2 linked regions of the Homo sapiens genome follow. The protein of the gene in region 2 interacts with the protein of the main gene of each other region in a biochemical or structural test. Each region holds a gene or a part of one and is shown on either strand. Other genes may lie near its edges.

Evidence for each region.
Region 1: the proteins of VDR (region 2) and NCOA6 form a complex in vitro, tested with the Homo sapiens proteins (one study listed by BioGRID).

The regions. Positions count from the first base shown.
Region 1 is NC_000020.11:34,815,623-34,819,272, forward strand, and holds part of NCOA6 (nuclear receptor coactivator 6), read right to left. Parts: intron 1-3,650. UniProt on the Homo sapiens protein: Nuclear receptor coactivator that directly binds nuclear receptors and stimulates the transcriptional activities in a hormone-dependent fashion. Coactivates expression in an agonist- and AF2-dependent manner.
Region 2 is NC_000012.12:47,894,970-47,898,619, forward strand, and holds part of VDR (vitamin D3 receptor), read right to left. Parts: intron 1-3,650.

The DNA of each region.
Region 1 (3,650 bases), on a different chromosome or scaffold from region 2:
ATGACTATTAACACTGAAATATCCATGGGGAGGCTTTTGAATGGAGACCCTGAAAAGCTGATGTATCTCTCAATGCCCACAGATGACTCACCAAGAAGAGAGGGCTAACAAAACCCTCAAAGTTTGTTGTTTTACAGAAGAGAGATTTCTTTATTGTGCTGGCAAAAGTTACTGGCATAGGAAAATGAGGGAGGCTGGGTGTGTTGTCATTGACCATCTGTTTTTCTACAGGGTGTTTACTTATCCATGATCACCTGATCATATTAGAATGTCTCTAAAACTTGACTCAGTTACTCAAAGCTTGAATCAATTATCTACCATTTCAAAATTCCGCAGTGCCATCCTGCTCCCACACACTGGTCACTCAGCAACATTCAAATGTCTTAGACCTGGCATCCAGGGCCCCAAGAAAGTACGTCGGCTTCACTTCTCCACAACTCCTCAACAAACCAGCAAATCAGACTTCTCACTATTTCATTACCTAAATATTCCTTACATTTTCCTATGTCCATCATTCCTTTGGTTACTCTCTCCTTAATCCCATTTGTTGCAATCTTACCCTTCCATTTTAATAAATTTTAATTTAATGCCTCTATGTTATCTCAAACACTACCTGTTATGTGTTGACTTGTGCCCCCCAATCCCATCCCTGCCAAATATGTTAGTCTTAACTCTCAGTACCTCAGAATGTGACCTGATTTGGAAACAGAGTCGCTGCAGAGGTAATCAATTAAGATGAAGTTACTCCTACTGGAGTAGGGTGGGACCTACTAGTGACCTTATAAGGGAAATTTGGACACAGAGACATACAGGGAAAACGCCATGTGACAACAGAGGCAAAGATGGAGTGATGCAGCTACAAGCCAAGGAGCACCAAGAATTGATGGAAGGCTCAGCCTCTCAAGTAGGTGCGATTAGATGCACATGCCAGCACGCCTGGCTAATTTTTGTACTTTTAGTAGAGATGGGGTTTTACCATGTTGGCCAGGCTGGTCTCAAACTCCTGAACTCAAGTGATCCACCCACCTTGGCCTCCTAAAGTGTTGGGATTACAGGTATGAGCCAGCTATTTGGGAGGCTGAGGCAGGAGAATCACTTGAACCTGGGAGGCAGAGGTTGCAGTGAGCCAAGTTTGCACCACTGCACTCCAGCCTGGGCAAGGGAGTGAGATGCTGTCTCCAAAAACAAACAAACAAACAAACAAACAAAAAAGAGCAGCTGGGTGCAGTGGCTCACACCTGTAATCCCAGCACTTTGGGAGGCCGAGGCAGGTGGATCACCTAAGGTCAGGAGTTCGAGACCAGCCTGACCAATATGGTCAAACCCCATCTCTACTAAAACTACAAAAAAATTAGCTGGGCGTGGTGGCAGTTGCCTGTAGTCCCAGCTACTCAGGAGGTTGAGACAGGAGAATCACTTGAACCCAGGAGGCGGAGGTTGCAATGAGCCAAGATCTCACCACTGCACTCCAGCCTGGGCAACAGAGTGAGACTCCATCACACACACACACAAAAAAGCAAAAGCAAAAGCAAAAGAAAATGTATATAAATGGGTACTACGGAACTGATATTCAACAGATTCAATATCAGTAAAGGAGCTGATTAATGGGAACTTTTGTTGCCTTTGTGTGTGTGACGGAGGGGGAGGGGTTGCAGCTGGTTAATGCTAAATACAAACTGAAATATCTGTTTAAAGTATGAATGCCCTCTGAATTTGGTGCTCATTAATATTAACTGATATAGTTAATTTATTAACTGATAATGAATATTATAACTGACATAGAATACACAATTCATCACAAAGTAAAGGTATGGTCCTGGCCTTCTGCTTTATAGAGATTGTATATCAAATAAAGCATATGACCAACTCTAGGGCTGCATTCCTCCTTCCATCAAAGCCATAGTATTTCATTTGTGTATACATCTAAATGTAACTCTAGTTATTTACTAATTAACTCAGAATGTTTATTGAGCTCCTAGGCAGCTACTTTATGTCCTTTTTAGAATAAGGTGAGGTAGAAAAAGATCACATTTAAAAAAATAAATGAATATACCAGACATCAAAATAGGCAGACACTGGAGCTGAAGGGAGGGAAGGGGGAAGGCAGAGACAGACACCAGCCCAGTCCTAAAGGAGCACTCACCCAATCTAGTGAGAAGTAAGAGAGTAAACTAGCTCCATATCTCTCCTTTCTCCCCATGCTGATCCTACACTTCACAATCAGGCTTCCTTTCCTAACGTACAGCTTTCATCACATCACTGGCGAAAAACATTTGATGACTTCCCACTACCTAGTCAATCAAGTTCAAACTTCCCAGCTTGGAATAGAAATGGGTATTCAAAGCCTTCCATGATTTGATTATATGGTATGCAGAGATTAGGAAGGCAGGCTTTGAAATTAGACTACCTGGACTCAAATACTTTCTGTATCAATTGTTAGCTCTCTTCTTCATTTTATATGTAAAAAGGGATTAAAAACCAGTGCCTACCTCATCAGGTTGTTGTAAGGATTAAATAAAATGCTACTTATGAAATACTTAGCACATTATCTTGCAAATAGTAAGCATGCAAAAAATGTGAGCCATTGGCCAGGCATATGGCTTGTGCCTATAATCCTAGCAATTTGGGAGACCAAGGCAGGAGATCACTTGAGCCCAGGAATTAAAGACTGCAATGAGTTATAATCACGCCACTGCACTCCAGCCTGGGCAACAGAGTAAGACCCTGGTTCTATTTAAAAACAAAACAAAACAAAACAAAAAAACCCTACCCAAAGAACACTGGGGGGAAAGAAAAGCCACTACTACTATTAATTTTTTTAAGTTTTATTTATTTTAGGTTTTATCTATTATTGTTACTATTGTTCATCTCCATTTCCACCCTTAATTCCAACAACACCCTTATAACAATCCTCTTCTCCAAGCAAAGTGGACTCTTTACCATCTCCTAAATACCCACCTCTGTGTTTATGCTTTCACTCAGCCTGGAAAATACAGCACTGTCTCATCTCCAAGTATTAAGATACTAACTATTCTTGGCAGCTTCGTTCACAGACCACCTCTTTCAGGTACCATTCTCTAGTATCCCAGCTCCATAACACATTACAGACATTCCTCAGCATAGAAACCTTGGCTAGATTCATCTTGGTATCTTGCAGAGTTCTAGCCAGTTTCCAGAATACATGGTAGGGCTCAACAAATGTTTGAGAAAATAATACCTATATTTCCTTTCTCGTCCAACCACTCTCTTAGACAACAGCTCCACAATACAAGTAAAAAGAGTTCTTCTACAGTATTTCATAAAGCTGGCCAGCTAATTTTCTATCACCAATGTGGTAATTTCTAATACAGTACTTAATACATAGTAGATGCCTAAATATTCAAGGAGCTAAGCTGAATTTCACCTCATCTTTTAATTTCATTTATCATTCTATTCATTATGATCAAGTATGGCTCATCCTTAGAAATAGGTTTTAGTATTTACTTGCCCACAAACTCATCTGTCAATTTCTGGCCATCCCCCCCACCATCCCAATATGTCATTTACTGGTTTGGGGGAGACAATATTCAATACCTCAATAAAGTAAGAATCAGAAAATTAAATGTCTGCAGGGCCATAAAAATAAAGAGCAAAGCAAGACAGCAAGGCAG
Region 2 (3,650 bases):
CTCTTACAGAATGCAAGGAAGAAGGAGAAAACACTGCGACTTTACCAAGCCTCCAAAAGGAGATTCTATAAGACTGTTGTGTCAGCTGAGATAAATATTTCAAATGTGTTATAAAAATTGTTACACTCTAAAATTACACTCTATAAAAATACTAGCTATTGCATTACTATTATTTTTCCAGGCATTTAAGAATAGGAGAGGAGGAGGAATAAATTCAGGTAAAAAGGGGAAGGCTGTGAAAAAACACCTTGAACGATTGCATGGAGCATGATCCATTCATTCGTTGTCTACCAAGCCCATCCCCAAACTTTCTCCTTTTTTTTGTGCCTTAAGACCCTATCCTCTGTTAGTTTCCTTTTGATTTTTCTCACACAACTTTTCTTCTAATACCTATGAGGAAATACCTTCCTGAGAAGACAGAGTATGGGAGGGAGAGAAGGAGGAGGGGAGAAAGGAAAGGAGGGGAAGGTATTCTTGGAATATCTTACTCTGAAAGCTTTCTTTCTAACTCACAAGGAAGAAACACTCTGTATTATAAAGCTATTATCACATTCTGGGAGGGGTACCTTCTAGTACGTTAGTAAGGAATTCTACAGGAACAGGGTTTTTCCTATCCCACTCTATAACAGTTACCTGTTAAAAAAAAACTACCAGAGGATGCAGTGGAGCCTGCAGGGCAGACCTGACTGTGATGTTTGCTGTTTGCCACCCGTCCTTCCCCAACACCAACAGTGATTACACATTTCATTTTTTTTAAATTGGCTGTCAATGTTTTAGAAATCAAGAGTTTACATTTTTGAAAAAAAATCTGAATGTCCAGCTTTCTATGAAAAAGTCAGATAATCTGGCCACACCAGGCTGAAGCTCCTGCCGGAAGCCTGCTGGGCCGAGAGGGGCTGCTCCCATCAACCAGCGTGTGCTCTCCAGTCCATCTCACCGGGTCTGCATCCCTCCAGCCTCACTCATGACCCACCTGGCCCTGGCCCCCTGACCAGCACACACTGACAGCAGAGCTCACGGTTAGAAGTGCAGGCTCTGGAGGCAGCTGGCCTGGGTGTGCCCAACCCTGAATTCTCCCTACCACTAGCTGTGCAACAAGAACCAATGAAATGCACTCTCTAAGCTTCTGCTTCCTCACCTGTGAAATGAGAAAAATAACACCACCTACTGCATAGTCTGTGAGGAGTCCATGAGATAATCACGTCAAGTGCTCAGCATAGTGCCTGGCACGTAGTACCTGCTCAGTAAACGTTAGTGCTTATTATTGCGCACAATTACTGCAATGACTAAGGAGAATTCATCTGAGTTGCAGCCCAGTTTTTGAAGATGATTTAATGACACAAAGCAATTGCCCTTCAACCCTCCTTTCTTGCTCAGGCACCTGGTCTACAGACAAAACCATCTAGTGAGTATATCTGTGACATGTTAGTTATTGTGTGGAGCAGGGGCACTTCAGAGACAGGATTCAGATCTGTTCTCGGGGCTCGGAGTAGAGTGGGGGGAATGGACGATGACAGCACTGACAGGTGGAGTTACGCACAGAGCTCTCCCCACAAGCCCTGCCCAGGACCACGCAGGAGCTTGGCATTCAGGAGGACCTGGGGGTGGGTCTGACTCTTTTCTCCTTCTCCTTCTAGGCTCCAAACCTTCGGGGGGCTTTGCTAAAAGACACCCAACCTCGAATTAGTTCCACTCCATTTCCAGTTTCCCAGGCTGTGCACGTGGTTTCAACAAAGCCGGTCAGACCTCAAATGGAGTTCATTATAATGGAATTTTACCTGAGGCAGCCCCTCCCCCACTTCTTAACATCATGGCACCCAAGATATGGGTGTGCTTGCCAAAGAGGCTGGGCAGAAGTCACTTCCTGCCCCTGGCAGAAGTCCGGAAATTCAGAGCCGTTTGGAACAAAGAACTCTGCCCCGAAGGTGTTTTCCAGCATCTCCCTGGCCAGATTGGAACTGCCCCATTCACCCTCGTACCACCTGCTGCGTTTTTTCCAGCCCTCCTAGACAGGAAGGGGAGGAGGGAAGACTGAGCTGAATGACCAGGACACTGCAGGAAAGGCAATGCACAAGTGAGGAAGAGAACATGCACTCTGGACTTAAGCCTGAATTTAAATTCTGGTTCTGATTTAGTAGCTCAATGTCTTTGGGCAAGGAATTTAGCCTCTTAATCTCTATGAACCTTGGTTTCCTCTTCTATAAAATGGGTATAATTTTACCAGCCTCGTAGGATTATTGAGAGGCATAAATGAGAAAATGCATGAAAAGCACTGAACATAGTACCTGGAACATAGTGAGTTATAGTAACCATTGGTTATTATGATTGTCAGCTATTACATAATATGGTAACCTCACAAGGGTCAAAGGTTGGTATAGAAAGAGACACTGGGTGGAATTGGGGTGAGGGGATGGCTGGAGAAGGTAGAGCCCTGTCCCTGATCCCAGCACAGGCCTGGGAGCCAAAGTGAGGCCCAGGGCAGAAGCACCTGCCTGCCCGGAGCTGACAGGCACAGACTGGATAGGTAATTACAAAGTTGAGAGCTGAGGTGGCCCATGCAACTGTCCAGCCAGCCACATTCCTTTGTCCCATGGGTGGATGGGTGGTGAATATCTGGCTGTTTATGTGGCTACCAGGATGGTGAGTGTAGTTAACACCTCTTTTCCCCAGTAGTCCTAGCAGGGTATTCGACCTTCAAAGGGAAAGGGATTCTCTACAGGCATTTGGCTCCTTTCCCCATGGCATCGCCTCTGTTCCCTCCACTCCAATCCTCCAGCTACCCCTTGCTTCTCAGGTTAAACAAGTCAAAAGGCCAAAGAACAAGGCCAGACTCTGAAGAGATGGCCAGTAGAGACTACTAAACTTCACCCCATCTCACTGGAGCCCTTAAATGATCAAGAAGCCCAGGACAGACATGAATCCATCACTGCCCCAGCCCTGTGTGCTTTGATTAGCCAGCAAACTCATGGTTCTTATACTTCCATGTCCTTTTCTCAAAACTGATGCCCAAGGAAAATATATATTCCTCCCCAGGTATTAATTGAGCACATAGTATGGGCTCACTGCTGACACCAGGCTCTTGGTTGAACTGAGGAGACCACCAAGTGTTTGGGAGGATGTAGAACCGTGGGATCCCTCAAGCACTGCTGGTGGAAGCCCAGAGAGGAAGGGCTTCAACTGTACTTAGAGGCCCAGCACAGAGCTCTCTCTGAGACATGTCTCAGGCTGTGACATGTATGTGGTCACCTGTACAGAGTGCAGCAGACAGGCACACACATGAGCCAGAAATTGGGTCCCTAGGTCATGAATAATACAACTATTATAGCTAATCATTATAACTGTAGAAACTCATCTAATGCAACTTTTTCATTTTAGAAATGAAGCCTGTATCAAGTGTTGAAAAGGATGGAGAACAATGGAGACTTTCATCCACTGCTGGAAGTGTTTTTTGGGACAACCACTTTGGAAAGCTGTTTGGCACCCTATAGCAATGCTGAACATAGAATTCCATGGGAGGCAGCAATTCCAACCCTAGGTATGTGCCCTACAGAAATTCTTGTGAGTTTCTCATGAACCAGAAGACAAGTATAACATGTACACCCCTAGCAGTACTGTCCTATCGTAATAGCTCAACTGGAAACAACCCAAAT